2 separate regions of the Homo sapiens genome follow, and region 2 is linked to region 1. The links come from fine-mapping of genetic effects on gene expression. Tissue or cell type: whole blood. Region 1 holds a variant in brackets; the other region holds the start of a gene. All regions are shown on one strand. Distances are between the middles of the regions.

Region 1 (5,000 bases):
AAAGAGCGCCATAGTTTACAAAGATTTCTCCCTCTCACAACACCTTTTAATCACTGATCCGTATTCCCTTAGCACTCAAATCTCTTCTGTTTGGATTGCCCTCATTAACAATCTGACCAGCTCGTACAATGCATCCCTCTTTGCAATTTGCCACGTATGCTTACGTGTTCCCCTTTTTTCTACTGGCAAGGAAAGAATGTAAGCTTTTATTCACAGGAGATGTCTGAGACTTTTGCCGGTAAAATGATCTGGCTACAAGGTCTAAGAGGGAAAAGCAGTTTGCTCGAGGAAAGGTATTCGTGCATTAAGGACAGTCCTGTGAGTGAGATATTGGTGGACGGCTTCAAGCTCTAGCCTGTGGCCTACAGCTGGCCTAAATAAGACTGGGAAGGAACTGTGAAGACGGTTTCAAATTCCTAAAGCCCTGAAATTCTCCCCCTAAGTTTAGGAAGAGCTTTTGTTCTTGGTGTGTAACACTGATAAATGAATTGGTACCTAGTGATTAATCTGCACTTTTATTAAGATATGACCTACTTTACCTTTTTTGAGACAGGATCTTGCTCTGTCGCCCAATAGCCCAGGCTGGAGTGCAGTGGCAGAGTTGCAGCTGGCTGCAGCCTCCACCTCCCTGGCTCAAGTGATCTTCCAGCCTCAGCCTCCCCAGTAGCTGAGACTATACAGGTGCAGGCCACCACTCTTAATTTTTTTTGTTTGTTTTTAAGAGACAGGTCTCCCTACGTAGCCCAAGCTGTTTTCGAAGTCCTAGGTTCCTCCCACCTTGGACTCCCAAAGTGCTGGGATTACAGGCTTGACCCACTGCGCCCAGCCTGCATCTTTACATTCGAAATAAAATTCAGTCAAGTCAAAGCCGGTCTTGGAGGAAAATGTGGCTTTGATGACAGCAGTAGGGATTTTCCTTCAGTGCCTACTTACCAGAGGATAATAATAACAGCAAGTTTCTTAAACATAAAAACATCAGAAATGAAAAAGAACTTTCCATAACACTATAAATATTGCAGTATTTCAAGATACTGAACCAGAGCCCTAAGGAAAGGCTGGAGACCCAGAATTTTATAATGGCTTTGGGACATGAATTTTATTTTAACCAGAGGACAAAATTAATCTGCAAAAGCTGTCTTGGAGAAATTTCAGGAAATAAAAGATCAAATGTATCTGCTGTCCTCCCTTCCCTCTCCAGGAGAATAAAAGGCAAATGCAAACTATCACAGGGAGATTTTCACCTTTACCTAAATTATTTATTATATACTTTATATTTCTGGTTAATAGATTGGGAGAGAGCACTCCAGATAAAGAACTTCCTTTATAAATGCCACATTTATTTCAGTACTGGAGGTTTGGTCTTGTGTTGCCACAAAGATTTGGAATGGCATCTATGTTATAAATTTAGATGACAAAAGAGACTAATAAAAGACTTCTAGATGAAACACAAGCTTCTAATATTCTGGTCCAGGAAATAAGATAGAAACTAAAAAACAATAAATAACTTTTATGAATTAACTGAAGGACTTAAAATACTTGTTCCATTCTAATCCCAAGTGTCTGCCAAGGAACTGAAATTTAAAATGATAAAAGACATGATACAGTCATGTTACAGGGAATTCAATGAAGTAAAAATGGCAGACATTGATGAATGGTATGGTTTAAAGATTTGTGTAGAGGTAGTGATGAGGAGGCCTGCTGGGAGCTGGAAAAGTTCTATACCTTGACACAGTTATGCTTACATGGATATACACACACAGTAGTCACTAAGCCATGATTTGTACTTATGATTTGCACACTTTGGTGGTTGTAAATTGTACAGCAATCTAAAAACAAATGAGGTCAGTGTGCCTCACTACAGAGCTTCAAAAGTGGTAGATAGCACATCTCTTTTTTCTTTTAAGCCATCTAATACAGAGTTGCTTGGAATAAATCCTAATAGATACAGTGTTTCTAGAAACAAGTAAATGAATAAACCTTAGCTGTTACCCCGTAGGAGCCAACAGAGGTCAATCTGTTCTCAAGCTTTTACAAAGTTACAAGAACAAGTAATCAGTGCATATTTTGTTGAAACTCCTACTGCAATACTGAAAACTTCAAATGGAGAGCAGCTCCTTTTTGGTAATTCACAACAGACTTAGTTTTCAAATTACCAAGAATATAAGGAATTAGATTAGAAGCCTAATTCAATTTAGAATTATGAGACATTATTTGTAACCCACAA[G/A]TATTATTTTTCCCATGATACTGAACAATTCACCTGGCATGAACTTAAAAGAAGAAAATGCTTATTGCAGCCTTCTTGCTTTAAGAGCGAAAAAAACAATTTTGCTAGCTGTGGAGGGACTAGAATACAATGTCACTTTAAGATTTACACTCTCAAAAGTTTTGACCTATCAGATTGAGAGCCAGAGAGAGAGACAGACAGAAGGAGAAGGATAAATCAAATGTGGTAAAATGTTAACCTTTGGGGGATCTGGGTAGAGGGGATCTGGGAATTATTTGTACTATTGCAACTTTTCTGTAAGTCTGAAATTGTGTTGTCAAAAGTCAAAAGAAAAAATTTATAAATACTTTATCATCCATTTGCTTTATAATTAGGTACAGAGTATGATGACAGAGAGAGCCTACTGTATGCCAGATACTTAACAGAAGGAAAGTAGTTTATATGTAAACTCTGGGAAAAGTGGAGCCAAATGATTACACTGTGTGTACCCTTTAGCACTGTTTGGGGTGGGGACATGGGGGGTCAGGGTGCAGAGAGGGACTGTTCTGGTCTCCTTGGAAGGTATGTGCCTATAGTAAAAAGCATGAGTAAGATATCACATCTCCTAACTCCGTAACAACCAAGCAAACTTATAATAGCATTTTAACTTATATCACCTTTTTTATAGGAGCGGATATATATTCCAGCAGCATGAGTATTTTAGCCCTCTTTGCAATTGCAGTCTTCATTCATTATCATCAATAAACTGGCCTCTGGTTGATTGATCTAGTCTAGTTCTTATTTTATCACAGCACATGGGATATATGATATCATCAAAGCCATGATGTGAACAAACCATGAGGTATAATGGAGTTTGTATGAGTAATTGTGCCTTTTAATTATAGTTTTAGTTTGCTTTCTTGACTTCCATTCATTCAGATTGCACATTAGGGGACAGAGAAGAGGGTGCTTCAATATAAACCTTTGGCTATTTTACAAACACACTTTGCTAAATGTTCTTAGTCTCTATCCTGCAAAAGTCACCTTCTTGGATCAGAAATATATAAAAGCCTTAGTGCTGGTGGAAAACAGGCTTCTTCGTTGGAGGTCAGTCTCAACTAACTTCACACTCTGATTCCTAAAAAAAAATGGGAAGGTGGGTGTGTACACATCCTTTATGTTACAAATTTCTTACTGGAAAGGTGACCTAAATATTAGACTTTCCCGAAAGAGTATTGAGTCTCATAAAAATCTCTAATGGAACAGCACTTAAGAATTTCAACCGTGTGACCACTAAGAATGGTGTAGATCCATTACCTCTCACATAGGCACTCTCCACGATAGACTAAGTGATAAAACCAAGCTGCAGAAGATTGTATTACCTGGAGAGATACCAAATTGTTCAGTGGTGACCTCTGGGAAACATGGTGGGGGAGGTTTTGAAGGCAACACTCACCTTAATTTGGGGATATTGTTAAAAAATTTTTTTTACTTACATAGTCTTTTTAAAATAAAGAACTTAGCCACAAAATCAAAACAGCTGATTGATATGAAGCACCAGTATCTCCATTATTGAAAGGTTGCTTCAAGAATGCTGAATAGTTTGTTACATTTTACAAAAAAATGAAAGAGCACAGGATGTTGTCTACCTGTTTTAATTATGGAAGGATAATTGTCAATTTTTAAATAGCAAGATAGTTATAAAGAATGTTTTCCAAAGCAATACCAAAGAGATACTTTTCCCTTTTAGAATAGAAATTATGGTACCATGCAGCTTATTTCCCCATATTGATCAGGTGAGCATTTGTCTTAAGGAGTAAGAGAGTTTGTCAGACCTGGTGTCCATGGCTTGCCAGAGAGGCAGATTGAACTATCTCTTGGCATTTCCATAAATATACAAAAATTAGCCGGGCATGGTGGCGCACGCCTGAGCCCCAGCTACTCGGGAGGCTGAGGCAGGAGAATCGCTTGAACCAGGGAGGCAGAGGTTGTGGTGAGCCGAGATTGCGCCACTGCACTCCAGCCTGGGCAACAGAGTGAGACTCTGTCTCAAAAAAAAAAAAAAAAAAAAAAAAGAATTATTGGGGCCAGGCACGGTGGCTCACGCCTATAATCTCAGCACTCTGGGAGGCCACACAGGCAGACCACCTGAAGTCAGGAGTTCGAGACCAGCCTGGCCAACATGGTGAAACCCTGTCTTTACTAAAAATACAAAAATTAGTTGGGTGTGGTAGCACACTCCTGGAGTCCCAGCTACTCGGAAGGCTGAGGCAGGAGGATTTCTTGAACCCGGGAGGTGGAAACTGCAGTGAGTCGAGATCAAGGCACTGCACTCCAGCCTGGGAGACAGAATGAGACTCTGTCTCAAAAAAAGGAAAAAAATCCTTTACTAAGTCACCGAAGTCTTAGAAATTTGGGAAACTGAGGACAAAGTTCCTAAGGGTTCTGGAGAAGAAGGTACAGCCATTTGGGGAACTATTTGTCAAGGAGCAACTTCATGTCTGGGACAATAGGTAATTCAGAAAACAGTCCCTAAGAGACACAATATCTGAAATAATAAAGGGGTGTGGTATATCACTCAGGAAGTTACGTGGTAAGCAGCCAGGATGGTTGAAGGTCCTGAGTAGCTGAAACCAATAGGGAAGACTTTATGGAGGAGTTCAGATTTGAGACAAGCCAGATTTTAAGCAGGGAAGAAAACATTCCAAGTAAAGAAAACAGAATGGTTTCATGATTTAAAAGCAATTTTTTCATTTTATTTATTTTTGAGACAGGGTCTCACTGTGTTGCCCAGACT
Region 2 (5,000 bases), 75 kb after region 1:
GCAAAGACAGCCCAGGATGAGCAGGAGTTCTGGAGACCTTGGCCTCTGCAGCCCTGGCTCTCACCTGGTACACAGTGGGCAGGATCCAGCCGTTGCTCTTGCAGAGGGTACAGATCTCGGCCACTTCCCAGGCTGCATAGTTGGAGAGGCCAAGCTCCACGAACTTGCCCTGCTCAGGTGAGGCTCCAGTCAGAACATAGTGCAGCCCAGACCAGGAAAGGGAGGCCAGGGTGGGGCCCCTGGGAGTTGGGCTGTTCCCTGCTCCACCCTGGAACAGCCCTGGTGCCTCTGCTCTCACCATTAGGATCAGGATAAGGAGAGCAGCAGTGGACCACCTCCCAGAGCTCAGGGGTCCCCTCACCTCCTGGTGCAGCTGGTGGCAGGCACGCAGTGTCTCTTCCACCGGGGTGCTGTGGTCTGGCATATGCAGGTAGAAGAGGTCCACTCGGGGACACTGCAGCCGCTTCAGTGACGTCTCCAGCTGGAACCGGAGACTGTCAGGCTTCAGGGAGTTCCCAAACAGTGGAATGGCCTTGGTATCAATTTTCACTGAGAGGAAAGAGAAATGAAATTCAGGGCCAGGCGCCGTGGCTCATGCCTGTAATCCCAGCACTTTGGGAGACTGAGGCAGGCAAATCAGAAGGTCAGGAGTTCAAGACCAGCTGGACCAACATGGTGAAACCCCATCTCTAATAAAAACACAAAAATTAGCTGGGCATAGTGGAGCCCGCCTGTAGTCCCCAGCTAGTCCGGAGTCTGAGGCAGGAGAATTGCTTGAACCCGGGAGGCGGAGGTTGCAGTGAGCCGAGATTGTGCCACAGCACAATGTCTCACAGAGTGAGACTTCTCAAAAAACAAACAAACAAACAAAACAAACAACAAAAAAAAAGAATCTTAGTTCCTAGTGAACTGGACTAACAGGTGAGTGGAGAGTCCTCTTCCCACTTTTCACACTTAGAAAGTCACCTAGGCTGGCAGGAGGGCAGTCACTGGAGCCCTTGAGGCCTAGCAAAGAGCAGGTTTGAGGAACTATTCATATGGAATTTTTCCATTCCACCACCACCCCTCTGCTTCTCAATTGAATTTAACTTCAGATCAGATCTGAGGACTTTCGCCAGCCAACCTTGGACTCAGACAGAAGACAAAGAAGGATTAAAAAAGGAAAGAAAAAAAAATCAGAAATAAGGGCCAGGCAGAGGGTACAGATCTGTGGTGGCTCACACCTGTAATCTCAGCACTTTGGGAGGCCAGAGCAGGAGGATCACTTGAGCTCAGGGGTTTAAGACCAGCCTGGGCAACAAAGTGAGACTCCAGTTTCAATGAATAATACAAAAAATTAGCCGGGTGTGGTGCTACTGTAGTAGTCCCAGCTACTCAGGAGACTGAGGTGGGAGGATGGCTTGAGCCCTGAGAGGTCAAAGCTGCAATGAGCCCTATCGCACCACTCCACTCCAGCCTGGGCAAAAAAGCAAGACCCTGTCTCAAAAAAAAAAAAAAAATCAGAAATATGGTTAGAGCTCTCACTGAGTGGCAGCCGGGTGATCTAGAAAGAGCGTGGCACTGGGATGCACGCACAGGCCAGGTTCGTTCTGGATCTACCATGTGGTGAATCAGAGGAGAAATAAGACTCCACTCAGACACTCAGTGGAAGGAGGCAAATGGTGCTAATACTAAGAACAAACAAACAGCTAACATTTCCCAGCCCTCACTATGTGCCTGCCAGGCATCGGCCTAAGCACTGCAAATGGCATCAGACTGAGGGCGGCTCCTCCTGCCCCTATACACACATCCTCCCCTCCGGCCACACCTGCCTCCTCCAGCACCCGCGGCATTGCCAAAACACATTTGCCTTTCCACACCCATGCCCACTGCCCTGACGCCCTTGCCCCTTGTACTCTTCCTGGCAAACTCCTATCCATTCTTTCTTCACGGGGTCCCTCCCAGGAAGGGGTCACTCTGGGCTCCCCAGCCATCTCTAGAACTGGAGCTTCCTGGAGTGGGTTAGTGTCCATTTCTCTCCAATAGCCTCCGACAGAGCCTCCCACAGAGAGGGCAGTGAGACTCTGTACCACCCCAATCCCTCATCCCCCTGAGGGAGCTGCCAAGGCTTCCGGGCACTGCCACCCTTGTGAGGTGCCCTTGTGAGTACCACAAGGTACTCAGAGCAAAGTCCGGGGCCCCGAGCAGGCTGGCATGTGCAAAGGAGGAAGCAGATAGTGTGCTGGGTCCAAACTCTGATTTTGGACTGTGCCAGGGAGTGCCAGGCGGTAAGAACAGAATTTCTGCAGATCAGGCCCGTCAAGGGCACCTGGAGGGCACAGGTGGGGACAGGAGCTGCACAATGCCAGATCCCAGTGTTTTTTGTGCTCCAGAGAGGGGCTAGCCAAGTCATTCCAGGCAAGACCAAGTCATCCAGGCGTCAGTGAGGGTGCTGGCTACCTCCCGGAAGAGAAGAGAGACGAACAGAAGAGAAGACGAGAGAAAAGTTGTCCGGAGCTAGACGTGCCTAAGGAGCCTGGTGTTCCCAAGGCTGCGAGGTGAACAGGGGTGGGGGCGGTGGGGGGGACAAAACTTTGGGTGCTGCCCCGGGGCCAGGGAGAGCGGGGCGGTACACGGCTGTGGACAGGCTCAGCTCTGCACCGTGCAGGGGGAGGATCAGGGGCCACTGTTACCTCTGCAGTCGCTGCCGCCCAGCCGGAGCCCCAGGCCGCCAAGGATGGTCTCGGACTGGCCCTCGCTGTACACGAAGGCCGTGTCTATCTCGGTGTGGCCGCGCTCCAGGAAGGCGCGCGTGACTGCGGCGCTGGTGGGCGCGTCCATGCGGCGCCCCATCTCCATGGCGCCCAGCACCGTGGCTGGCCGGGCCCGCGACAGCTGCCGGGACATGACGGCGGCAACGGGAGACTGTGACAGCCCAGGAGCCGCGCGCAGCGGTCGGAAGCACCAGGCTCGGAGCGGGCGGCCTCGTGGCTTTAGAGACGGGCTCGGGCCCCGCCCACCGGCGGGTGCAGCTGAGGGCGCGGCCGAAGGTGCCCGACGCCGCCCACGAGCTCGACTCCACGCTCGGCTACTAGGACCTTCTGCACTTGCACCGAGCAAGCAGCGAAATGGCTGTGGCTTCGTACCGGTGACTCGCGTCTTGGAGATTTTAACACTCCTCAACGTCCCCAAGGGTGAGGGGGTCCAAGGGTGGCGACTATCCCAAAAGGCGGGGACTCTTCGGGCCTCCCTGCCCCGTCGTCCCTCCTTCCTCGGCCTTGCCCCGGAGCTGTCCTGGGTTTCTGTCTCCTCCCGGAGGGAGCGCTTACGGGGTGGGGTGGACCTAGGGCTGTCGCGCCTGCCGTGTGGTCCTGGAGAATGAGGCTTACCAAAGGCTCAAGACAGCGTCCCCATGGAGTGACATGGTTAAAGTGTTGAAAGAAAAGAACTGTTGGCATTGAATTCTGTACCTAAGTGAAAAAAAACTGACTGGCTCTGGTGACTTAACGCCTGTAATGCCAACACTTTGAGAGATCAAGGCAGGAGGATCACTTGAGCCCAGGAGTTTGAACCCAGCCTGGGCAACATAGGGAGGCCCTGTCTCAAAAGAAAAAAAAAAAGATAGAAAAATGGACCAGTGCCCAGCGGCAGTGAGCTGTGATAGCTCTACTGCACTCCACCCTGGGTGACAGAGGGCAAATCTGTCTCCAAATACAAAAGAAAAAAAAAGACCAATAGACAGATGGAACAAATGAAAAACCAATAGCAAAATTGATTTAAACCCAATCATATCAATAATTACATAAATATAAATGATGTAAATGCTCACAAGTAAAAGGCAGTGATTGTTAGAATGGATAAAAAAGCAAAACCAAACTATATGGTAAATACCAGAAAGCTATTCAAATATAAAAGCAGAGATAGTTTAAGAGCAAAAAGATGGGAAAAGACATACACTGACAAAACTAAATTTTAAGAAGTTGGAATGGCTAAGTGAATATCAGACAAAGTAGATTGCAAAACAAAGAATACTGGCCCACACAGTGGGTGACATACTAGCCCACACCTGTAATGTTAGCACTTTGGGAGCCTGAGAAGGGAGGATTGCTTAAGTCCAGGAGTTTGAGACTAGCCTGGGCAACACAGGGAGATCTTATCGCTACAACAAAATTTTAAAAATTATCAAATTGTGGTAGCATGCACCTGTGGTCCCAGTTACTTGGGAGGCAGAGGTGGGAGAATCATCTACGCCTGGGAGGTCGAAGCTGCAGATTGAGACCCTGTCTCAAAACAGCAACAACAACAACAACTACCAAAGACAAAGAGGGACATACCATAATGACAAAGAGGTCAATTAATAAAGAAGATATAATTCTAAATATATATGCACCTAAGCATAGATCATCAAAATACATGAAAAACAATAATGGAACTAAAGAACAAGTAGATAAATACAAAATTATAATTGGAGATTTCAACACACCATTCTCAATAGTTGTAGAACAGTTATCAGTCATAATTTACGGAAACTCCGTAAAGGTATACAAGACTCAATGCTATGAACCAATTCCACATAAACAACATGAATAGAATATCCAACAACAGCAGGATATGCATTCTTTTCAAGTGCCCATCCACCAAGATATACCATATTTGGAGGCATAAAACAAGTCTTAATAAATGTAAAAGAGGCTGGGAGCGGTGGTTCACGCCTGTAATCCCAGCACTTTGGGAGGCCAAGGCATGTGGATTAACTGAGGTCAGGAGTTTGAGACCAGCCTGGCCAACACAGTGAAACCCCGTCTCCACTAAAAATACAAAAATTAGCTAGGCGTGGTGGCGTGCCCCTGTAATCTCAGCTACTCAGGAGGCTGAGGCAGGAGAATCACTTAAACCTGGTTGGTGGAGAGTGCAGTAAGCCGAGATCAGGCCATTGCACTCTAGCTTGGGCAACAGAGTGAGACTCCATATTAAAAATAAATAAATAAATAAATAAATAAATTTGAAAGGATTCCAATCAT

The links. PIP is the estimated chance that this variant, and not a neighbour inherited with it, causes the effect.
Region 2: it holds the start of AKR7A3, and the variant in region 1 is fine-mapped to the expression of AKR7A3 in whole blood (TOPMed, PIP 0.91).

The regions. Positions count from the first base shown.
Region 1 is chr1:19,210,731-19,215,730 of GRCh38, forward strand. EMC1 (ER membrane protein complex subunit 1) reads right to left here. Exons shown (of 23, transcript NM_015047.3): 23 at 4,930-5,000. All of the region lies in intron 1 of EMC1-AS1 (EMC1 antisense RNA 1), which reads left to right. Among named protein-coding and RNA genes, the nearest start is that of EMC1-AS1, 2.8 kb to the left of the region's middle. RefSeq lists a silencer at 551-620. The variant G/A (reference allele first, on the strand shown) is at 2,225.
Region 2 is chr1:19,285,824-19,290,823 of GRCh38, forward strand. It overlaps AKR7A3 (aldo-keto reductase family 7 member A3), which reads right to left and starts at 2,947. Exons shown (of 7, transcript NM_012067.3): 1 at 2,673-2,947; 2 at 362-549; 3 at 65-169. The coding sequence starts at 2,886. It overlaps LOC124903867 (a long non-coding RNA gene), which reads left to right and starts at 2,237. Exons shown (of 3, transcript XR_007065521.1): 1 at 2,237-2,537. RefSeq lists enhancers at 2,180-3,002, 3,003-3,824.